Regions from separate parts of the Homo sapiens genome. Here region 2 is linked to region 1. A link means that fine-mapping ties the variant in region 1 to the expression of a gene that starts in the linked region. Tissue or cell type: subcutaneous fat. Region 1 holds a variant in brackets; the other region holds the start of a gene. All regions are shown on one strand. Distances are between the middles of the regions.

The links.
Region 2: it holds the start of LINC01341, and the variant in region 1 is fine-mapped to the expression of LINC01341 in subcutaneous fat (TwinsUK, PIP 0.95).

What each region holds. Positions count from the first base shown.
Region 1 is chr1:246,748,685-246,754,057 of GRCh38, reverse strand. The region is part of intron 5 of SCCPDH (saccharopine dehydrogenase (putative)); the gene reads right to left. Among named protein-coding and RNA genes, the nearest start is that of SCCPDH, 27 kb to the right of the region's middle. RefSeq lists a silencer at 1-36. The variant AT/T (reference allele first, on the strand shown) is at 2,118.
Region 2 is chr1:246,786,593-246,791,965 of GRCh38, reverse strand. It overlaps LINC01341 (long intergenic non-protein coding RNA 1341), which reads right to left and starts at 2,349. Exons shown (of 2, transcript NR_015422.1): 1 at 2,268-2,349; 2 at 480-1,520. RefSeq lists a silencer at 3,029-3,108.

The DNA.
Region 1 (5,373 bases):
GGCCTAACCAGGACCCAATATGGGAAATACCCCAAGCAAGACAGGGACCAAGAAGGACAAAGATAACAAGGATATTCCCCTTGAGTGCCCCCTAGGTCTCATGTTAAAATACTAGAAGGATAATGAAAGGACCAAAAACAAGAAAAAGCAGCTGCTGTCCCAGACCCTTCTCCTATCCCCATTGTCCCCCTCCTTATAACCCTGCCTCCTGGGAACTGTCCCAGGAGCCCACTCACTACGAGCGTTAAGTCCTCTTCCCTAAAAGGACTTCAGCGTGAGATAGAGCAATGTAAAAAGGATTTTCAGAACTTCCCTTTCCTCTCTTCTCGGGGGAAGAAAGAGCCACGATCCGTCGAACTGCTATGGGAGTCTTGGAACGTGAACACCCTTCTGGCCAAAACGTTCCTACAGCGGATCAAAAATTTCCCGCCCAAAACCTCAGGTGGGACAATAACAATGCAGCCCCTCAAGAAAATATGCAGGACCTTAGGGAATTGATAATAAAGGGGATTAAAGAATCAGTATCCCAGAATCTTACCCAAACATTTTATGTACAGCAAGGGAAAGATGAAGCACCTATAAAATTTTTTAGATTAAAGGAACAAATGAGAAAATATGCTGGTCTAGGTCTCGAGGATCCTCTTGGGCAGGGAATGTTAAAACTGCATTTTGTCACTAACAGTTGGCCAGATATTAATAAGAAATTACAAAAGATAGAGAACTGGAAAGATAAACCTATAGAAGAGCTTCTAAGAGAAGCCCAAAAAGTGTATGTAAGAAGAGATGAAGAAAAAAGCAGAAAGCAAAAATTCTGCTGTCTACCATACAACAAAGTACCCAGGGGGCCAGAACCTGTAAAGAACCTAGACCCCCACTCTCCAGGCAACATAAAGAGGATGAAAGAGTAAAGCCAGGAGACTCAAAGGTAGAGAAAAAAAATCCTAGAGGAGAAAGACTGACAGGGAACAGAAGGAGTCAAGGAGAGAGAAAGAGAGAGAGAGAGAGTCAAAGAAAAAGAGAGAGAGAGAAAGAGACAGAGAGGCAAAGAGAGAGAAAGAGACAGAGAGGCGGAGAGAGAGAGAGACAGAGACACAGACGAAGAGGCAAAGGGAGAGAAAGAGGACAAAACAAATGTTTCGAATTAAAAATAGGTCACTTCAAAAGACAATGTCCCAAATGGGAAAAAGAACAAAAGTCATATATAAAAGCAAATCAGTTCATATTAAATTTCTGTTAATTCCAGAGGCAGGAACAAACTTATCAGAGAGAGATTTAGTACTAAAATTTGGCTTACGCCTCTATATTGATTAGGGAAAATTCCTCCCCTCCCTAAACTTGCTCCCCACCGCAGACAAAGAACACATTCATCCCAAGGTATGGTCAAAAGACAGGAATCGAGGAAAGTTACAGATTCCTCCGATTCGTGTTAAATTAAAAAAATTAAAAACCCCTGGGGAAGTAGAAAAGAGAAAGCAATACCCTATTCCTTTAAAAGTGAGGGTAAATTTAAAACCTACAATTGATAATTGAAGGTCTTCTCTGTGACGGGCTGCTTAAACCCTGTATGTCTCCCTATAACACTCAAATTCTGCCTGTAAAGAAGCCAGATGGGTCATACTGGTTAGTGCAAGAACTTAGAGCTATTAATCAGATAGCCAAACAGACTACCGTTTCTTAGCTGTACAACTGGCCTGCTTTGCAGCTAGGGAAAACCTAGGACACATGGAGTTAAATGCTAGGAGAAGCCAGACCTCATCTGCACTTCTGTCTAGGTCCTAGGCTCTACACCTAGCACATAATTAAAATCCCAAACTTACAAGGTTTTCAACAAAAGTAAAGTTTGCTAAAAGTTAAGTCTAACATGTATGATCCTAACTTCTAATCTTGTGGCCTCAGGCAGTCTAGTCCACAGACATGAAGGCAGTGTGCTTTGGAAAAGAATGGTTATCATCTTTGACATTAAAAAAAAAGGAGAATTAGCCGGGCGCGGTGGCTCAGGCCTGTAATCCCAGCACTTTGGGAGGCCGAGGCGGGTGAAGCATGAGGTCAGGAGATGAGACCATCCTGGCTAACACGGTGAAAGCCCGTCTCTACTAAAAAAATACAAAAAAAAAAAA[AT/T]TAGCCGGGCGTGGTGGCGGGAGCCTGTAGCCCCAGCTACTCAGGAGGCTGAGGCAGGAGAATGGCATGAACCCGGGAGGCGAGCTTGCAGTGAGCTGAGACTGCGCCACTGCACTCCAGCCTGGGCGACAGAGCGAGACTCCATCTCAAAAAAAAAAAAAAAGGAGAATTTATGTAAAAAGAATCTTATATGGTAAATTCTTGTCCTAAAGTAAATTAACTGGTTGTTTAAAGAAAGGGATATTTACGACAAGTCAGAAAGTTAAGGCATGTCAAAGGTCGTCTGTGAAAGTCGTGAAAAATGTTATAAAAGGGAATTTATGCAAGAAATGTCATATAATTGAAAAGTAATTAGGCCTCCTGAATGTAAAACTATTGAAGAAACAGTTTATGTGCAAGGTGTGTAAGGAAAGTAAAATATACTTTTGGTAAAAGGATTATAAGGAGGCATAAGAATGTGGATTTTTACCTACATTAAAAGGTTAAAAATTGTTTTGAAGGTTTAAGCAAGGTTTGAAAAGTTAATTGTAAAGGAAATTCTGTGTGTAAACATATTGGTTAAAGTTTCTGTAAACTGGACATTAAAATAAAAGCACAACAGGTTTTTCTTAAAGTACTAACCTGTTCTTTAACAAAAATTATAAAGGGTTAAAAAGAGTCTATAAAAAACTTATGGTCAGACATTAAAATTGGATAAATATGTCTAAAAGGTTTTATTAAAATTGAGTTTAACATTAATAGCACACTAATAGAAAGGTGACATTTAGCTGATCTGCTAATTGTCAAATATAAAATGGCATTTGGGTTTCTTTGGTCTAAAAAATTAATAAAAACAGTTGCTAAAGAGAATTCTGAAGGAAAATGGATACTGCCAGACCAGAGAGAAATGTTATCCAAACCCCTTATGAGCGAAATGTTGTTCCAGCTGCGTCAAGGGACCCACTGGGGGCCCCACGCCATGTGTGACGCAGTCCTCAGAGTTTATGGGTGCACAGGAATTTATACCCCGGCCAAACGGGTTACAGACAGTTGCTCAGTATGTAAGAAAACCAATAAACAAACTATAAAAAGATTACCCCTTGGGGGAAGGAGTCCAGGCTTAAGGCCATTCCAAAGTATCCAGATTCATTACACAGAGATGCCTCCAATTGGTCGTCTAAAGTATTTATTAGTAATAATAGATCACCTTACTCGTTGGGTACAAACTATTCCCTTTTCAAGTACAACTGCTAGTAATGTAGTCAAGGCATTAGTTGAAAATATTATACCCAGGTTTAGATTAATAGAAAGCATTGACTCAGATAATAGGACTCATTTCACTGTACATGTCATTAAGAAATTAGCCCAGGTACTGGATATAACATGGGAATATCATACTCCCTGGCACCCACCTTCATCAGGAAGAGTGGAAAGAATGAACCAAACTCTAAAAAAGCCACCTAACCAAATTAGTCTAGAGACTCGGGTGCCATGGACTAGCTGCCATCCCATTGCCCTGCCTAGAATCTGAACTGCCCCTCGGAAAGATGTTCGCTTATCCCCTTACGAAGTGTTGTATAGGTTGCCCTGTTTGCACTCCACTGCTGACATTCCCACAGTCAAAACAAAAGATCAGTTCCTCAGAAATTGTATGTTTGGTTTATCTTCCACTTTCTCGTCCCTCAGAACTATAGGTCTTTCAGCACAGGTACCCCCCCGCTAGAGTTTCCAGTACACCAACATTAGCATGAGGACCGTGTCCTTGTCAAAAGCTAAAGGGAAGGAAAACTCGAACCCGCTTTCGAAGGACCCTACCTAGTGCTTCTAAGCACCAAGACCGCGGTTCGAACAGCAGAAAGAGGATGGACTCATTACACCTGGGTCCAAAGAGCACCACCCCCTCCAGAATCATGGACAGCTATTCCAGGGCCAACTCCAACCAAGCTAAAGCGAAAATGGGTTTGAACCTCCTATACTGCATCTCTTTCTTTTCCCCTTCTATTGCTAGTCCTCTCTTTACTAGTGTAACTAGGTCAAGTTCACCCCAAACCATTACTTTTGACGCTTGCCTTCTGATGCCCTGTGAAGATTTGTCAAACCAGAGGCAAATCTACACTTTAGAAAAGTATCTTTATCCTTCCTAGCTCTCCTCAGACTGGAAATCTGTTAACTGAGATAAGTTAGTTTGGGAGGACTTTGACAAAGAGTCCAGTATGAACTGGGAATCTTGTCCTCCTAGAGCAGAGCTTCTCTGCCGAAATTTGTCCGATGCTCTATAAAACACCAAAGAGCAAGGACGGACGGCCCCAACTAGTACTTGCAGCTTCTTAAAACCATACATTCATTTTACTAAAGGAGTTTCCCCTCCCCATGGTCAGCTGAACCAATGTAATCCAGCACAGATGACGACTGCTGCTCCCCAGAGTTCTTCCCCTTCATTAGGCCATTTCTGTGGTGTAGGAGAAGTCTCAGGGAAGGACCCCATAGGATCCTTTGAAATGTACTTCATTGCCTCCTCACATCCTGCACCCCCTTCTCCCTCGTCTAAGTTCTCCACTAACCAAACTTTCTCTCATTATATACCCAATGATAAAACCTATGTAGCTACTGTAGAGGTTAAAGATTTAAAACAAACTACAGCAATTGAAACAGGGTATCTGGATGCAAATGCTTGGCTGGAATGGATAAAATATTCTGTTTGCACGCTAAACAAAAGCGACGGTTATGCTTGTGCAACAGGCAGGCCAGATACCCAAACTGTCCCCTTTCCACCTGGGTGGTTCTCTCATGACTGGGCATGAGCTGTGTGGTAGCTCTCTTCCAGAACCCTACAGCCGAGGCGATGAGTCATGCAAGACTCTTTCACTGCTGTTCCCTGAGGTCAAGAGCCTTGTGGGTCAGCCCCCGAGGGCCATGTGGCCTCCAGCCTGATATTAACTTCACCTCGTGCCTTTCACGGCAGACGGAAAAGTTAGCATTCCTTGGAGACTTAACAGGGTGCAGTGAAACCAAGCCTTTTCCAGAGCTTACCCACCAGTCTGCCCTTGTTCATCCTCGAGCAGGTGCGTGGTGGTATTGCGGGGGACTATTGCTGGGTATTCTGCAAGTAATTAGAGCAGCACTTGTGCTCTAGTCCAGTTGGCCATCCCTTCCACCCTAGCATTCTGTCAACATGATAAAAAAGAAAATCATAAAAGAAGTGCCCCACATGGGTCCTTTGACCCCCATGTTTATATAAACGCTACTGGAGTTCCATGAGGAGAACCAGATGAATTT
Region 2 (5,373 bases), 38 kb before region 1:
TGAACGAACAAGCCCACCGGGGGTGGCCCAAACATAAGCGCATCCCTGGATCTCTCCTGGTGCTTGGAGCCCTGACCCACCGGACTACAGAAAGCCCAGACTGTGGAGTGACCCCAAGGGCTCCCTCAGGAGGCCCCGCAGGAGCCCTGGGAAACCCCATGCCGGGCCTCACCCAGTCAAGAGCTGTCCCCAGCTCTGTGGCTGCCCTGCCTGGGAGGCTGCTGCTGGAGTGTCCTCCTCCTGCTTCCAGCTCTCCAGCTGGGAAGCACCATCACCTACATCCTTCAGACAGATCACCCCCTGCCCCCGTACGAAAGCCCACGGGCCGTCGTGGCTGGAGGGGTGCTGACCCAGGGGCCGGCTGGCCCCGCCTCGTCCTGCACTGCCAGCCTCCTTCTTGGGACATCTTCCTGGGGATCCCCCTCAAGTCCCTTTCCAGAACACGTCCTTAGTCCAACGCACAGGTGCGTAAATGTCTGAACTCCAGTGATGAGGCCGCAACCTTTCCCACAGGATCCCTGGGCCCCATGCAAAAAAGGGTTTGGATGCACACGGGTCTCCACATCCAGAACATTCCATGATGGCCAAGGAGTGCAGGAACATGGAACATGCTAAGGCAGGGAGCCAGTCATTCAGGACACACAGATGACATCGGTGCAGGGGAGCAGGGCGGGGAGAGGGGATGCCAACCTGACACCCCGACGTCCAGCCCCAAATCCTATAAGGTCTGAATTTATACGGCGAGGGCGCAGAAACAGATCAAAACGTACCCGGAGTAGGTGAGGCTCGTTAAGAGTCGCCTCCTGAGCGTCTCTTCTGAAGCTTGCTTGCTGCCATCTTCCCACCACCCCATCCCGCTGGCCTGGGAGCGGGAGGACTCCAGTGTGGCCTTGGCCGGCTCCCCGCAGTGCTAGGCCCTCAGCTGGTGTTCGTTCTGTTAATGAAGCCCTTGCCTGCTGTCTCCCAGCTCCCCGTGCTCCCCAAGGGCAGGGTCCTTCTGCGCCCGCTGCTGTCCCCATGCATCATGGGCCACAGCACACAGGAGGCCCCGAGATGCCACCTGCCATCCTCCGCAGCTGTAGACCTTCCCTCCTGTGCACATGAGAAAGGTCAGCCTACCTGCTCACGGAAACCGCCGTTTGCTGGGTGTCTTTGACTCTCATCTTCTTAGAATTTCAGATAAACACGCTTCCTTCACAAATGCCGACGGTAAAGTGACGGTCACTCCACATAGCAAATGCAAGGTTGCCGTTAACGGGGTGCCCATCACCACCAGGACAAAGCTGCAGCATTTGGTAAACTTTCCTGCAGGCTCACAGAATGTCCTAGGTCCCCCCCAAGAGCTGGGAGGGGACAGTCATGTGAGGTGCCCACATCACAGACGTGGCAGGATGGGGCGTTCACACCAGCTCCTCTGCCACCATGGCTTGGGGACAACATGGCACCACTGCTGGAGGGACAGGCCTGCTCCTGACTCACTGTGTGGTCTTGGGCAAGTCACTTCACTCCTCTGACCTCACCTGGAAAACAAGGAGGGCTGAACTAGGTGTTCTCCAAGGTCCCTTCCAGCTCTAACATTTTGTGCCATTTTAGATTTTTCTAAGAGCCTGTCACTGAGAGGGGTTGAACAGCATCTTGCAAACATCGCTGCCTCTTCCTCCCCAATCTGCCAACCCTGGGGCCCCTGCCAGCTTCCCAGCAGCCCTCTCCCCTCCCTGGTGGCCACAGCCTTTCAGACAGGACAGGCAGATGGGGATTGGCCGCTCCCCATTTGGAAAGCCCCCTCAGTGACCTCCCTCGGCCTCCTGTCCCTGGCCACACTGCCCTTCTTTTGGTTGTTCAGCAGCCGTCTCTGCCTCACCAAGACTTACCGCCCAGGAGGGCTTAGCTTGGGCATCACGCCTCGGAAAAGGCCGTCTGTAGCCTGTAGTCTGAGTTAGGTCCTGGTGTCCCCTGCAGCCATTGCTGCACTCACCCAGACCAGCCTGGAAAGCGTGGAGGGAGGGCCTGGCTCTGGGTGGTCCCCACAGAACCCCAGGGCCAAGGGAGTCACGCCCTCAATGTGTGCAATGAAGGTGAACGCAGGAGCCAGAGGCCACCTCCCTCCTGTCTGCGTCTCTCCCTGTCTGGGGGATTCCTGAGGGGAGGACATTCCTCAGATCCTTCTCACTGGGGAGGTTCACCTCACCCTCCTTGGCCTCGAACCCCTCCTGAGCCCACCGTCTCCTCCCCAGGACCGCCTGATTTTGGGATCCAACAGCACCTACCTGTACGTGGGGTTTCCTTCGGAGTGGGGCAGTGAGGACCTGAGCAGGTTCGATTACGACTTCTTCCAGCTGGAGAGGGCGGCTGCGGAGGGAGCGAGTGCAGACAAACTCGGTGAGCCCCCTCCTGACTGCTGGCCTCTCCCGTGTGCTGATCTGAGAGCAGCGATTTCACACTGTGTCTCTCTGCTTTCCTTAAGAACATCATCATTTGTTTTGTCAAAGTCTGATGTTTACAAAATTGAATTATGATTTCCATATAGAGTGACTACATGGTAAACATTCAACTCGTTAAACGTTCCCTGAGGAATGAGGGTAAAGATGGTTCAAAGGGGTAGAGAAGAGAGTGGGGTACCCAGCAAATGAGAGAAGAATGCTGAGCTGGAGAAGCCAGTTAGTGGCCTCCGGCCGCCCCCAGGGGCCTGCTGGGCCTGCAGAAGCAGTGGCCCAACTCCAGAGGGGCCGGCTGGGGCCTGCTGTGGGCTGCAAATGCGCGGCCCGGAAGAACGTGCAGCCCGAGGCCTCTGAGACAGAATCTCCCCTCCTCGCCCGAACGCAGCCCCCAGCAGTAGCCCACGCGGGCCGCCCGCCGCTGCCGGTCTCTGCTGGGGCTTTCGCGCGCCTTCCCCGCCCCTCTCCCCGCCCCGATTCACCGCGCTCCGGGCGGCTCCCCCAGAATCCTGGCCAGGCCGGAGCCCGCTGCGATCTGAGTGACCTGCGGGCTTCCCGGAGGGGCCCCACGCTTTGCTCGGCACCGGGACTCTGCCTGAACTCGCAGTAATGAAACCGCTGGTGGAAAGTGGGCAGATCCACCTGTGTGTGTGCAAGAGCTCCTCCCTGTCCCCACACCACAGTGTTTCTCTCAGAATTTCAGCAAAATAAATCGATTAGAAATTCACCTCCTTGCTCTTCTTCTGCTGAAGTTTTCGACTTTTAAAAATGAACAAGGCCGGGCGCGGTGGCTCACGCCTGTAATCCCAGCCCTTTGAGAGGCCGAGGCGGGCAGATCACGAGGTCAGGAGATCGAGACCATCCTGGCTAACACAGTGAAACCCCGTCTCTACTAAAAATACAAAAAAGTAGCCGGATGTGATGGCACACACCTGTAGTCCCAGCTACTCAGGAGGCTGAGGCAGGAGAATTGCCTGAACCTGGGAGGAGGAGGTTGCAGTGAGCTGAGATCGTGCCACAGCACTCCAGCCTGGGTGACAGAGCGAGACTCCATTTCAAAACAAAACAAAACAAAACAAAACAACGAACCAGTAAGACTCTGTCATACCAGGCCCGGAAAAGCCATCTGTTCATTGACCTGTCCTCAGAGGTTGACCGTGCCACTGCCCCTGTGGCCCTGGTGGCGCCATGAAGCTGAACCAGCCCCAGACCCTGGCTCGGACCCTAGGGAAGACTTGGGTCCCCAACAAGGCAGCAGCTGTGTGAGCAGTTTGGGGTCAGACCTCAGGGCCAAGGGCACTGTGTGCACCCACAGGCCAGGGGTCTCTAAGAGTTGAGATTTCCTGATTAGAGGCAGTACCAGCCTGGGTTTGGGAGGGAGATTGATCCTCCCATAATCTCCACGAGCCCCTCCTTCAAGCCACCCCAAGTATAAGAGAAGCACAGGTCACTTGCTGTGCCAGCAGCAGCTTGAGGATACCTCCAGGCCTTCCGTCTAGCCAGCCATGTTTCACCTCGCCCCACCCTCCTCCAGTCTGGAGCCACCTTGGGTCAAGGACCCTGAGACCAAGAATGGGAACTGGGGGCAGAGGACCTCCTGCCTGCGGCCAGGATTCATGGGTCGAGATAAGCAACCACGTAAGGAGAAGCCAGGCAGTGTCATTTTCCCTTGTTTGTTTTTAAATTACATGCTTGTAATTTTAAAATGTAGATATTTGATGAACAGCTGAACAAATGAATGAACAAATAAGCATACACATTTATTCATGGCGGCTGGGCGTGGTGTCTCATGCCTGTAATCCTAGCACTTTGAGAGGCCAAGGCAGGAGGATCGCTTGAACCTGGGAGTTCAAGACCAGCCTGGGAAACAAAGTGAGACCTCATCTCTACAAAATATTTTAAAAATTAGCCAGGCATGGTGGCTTGCACCCGTAGTCCCAGGTACTCAGCAGGCTGAGATGGGAGGATTGCTTGAGTCTGGGAGGTGGAGGCTGCAATGAGCAGAGATCATGCCACTGAACGCTAGCCTGGACGACAGAGCAAGACAGCTGTCTAAAAAAAAAAGAAAAAGGGCTTGGCATGGTGGCTCATGCCTGTACGCCTGTAATTCCAGCACTTTTGGAGGCCGAGGTGGGCAGATCACCTGAGGTCAGGAGTTCGAGACCAGCCTGGCCAACATAGTGAAACCCCATCTCTACTAAAAATACAAAAATTAGCCGGGTGTGGTAGTGCGCACCTGTAATCCCAGCTACTCAGGAGGCTGAGGCAGGAGAATTGCTTCAACTTGGGAGGCAGAGGTTGCAGCGAGCCGAGATGGCGCCACTGCACTCCAGCCTGGGCAACGAGAGTGAAACTCTATTTCAAAAAAAAAAAAAAAAAAAAATTCTTCATGGCGGAACAAGTGACTGACTTTCGCCTCCACTGTGATTGTTGCCAGGTGCTGCGGACGGTGGAGACGGCAAGGCGGGCCCCAGTGTCCTGGCTGCGTTCCAGGACTACATCAAACTGATGCCGCTGGTTCAGAAGCAAATCAAATGAGTGAAGAGCCAAAGAAGGTAAGTTAGCTGGAGCCAGGAGCTGGTGTGCCAGGTGCAGAAAGGACCTCAAGGCCTTGTGGGGCAGGGGTGCGTTCCCAGGGACTCTCAGGGAACTAGCCACAGAAGCCAGACTGCCCAGCCCAGGCCCGAGTACCATTCCTTTCACCAACAGCCTACCAGGGCCACCGGGATCCCAGACCAACTCTTGCTGGCCATGAGCAGGCCCTCCCAGATGGTCCTGGGGCCTCTCCGGGTCTAGGCACCCTGATGGCTGCTGTGCCACACAGACCACCTGGGCTGGGGACAGCTCCCTGGAGACGTGAGCTCCCATCGGCCGGAACCTTGTAAGAGATTTAATCAATTTGGTAGGGACTCCAAGTGTTAGTTCCAGGATATAATGG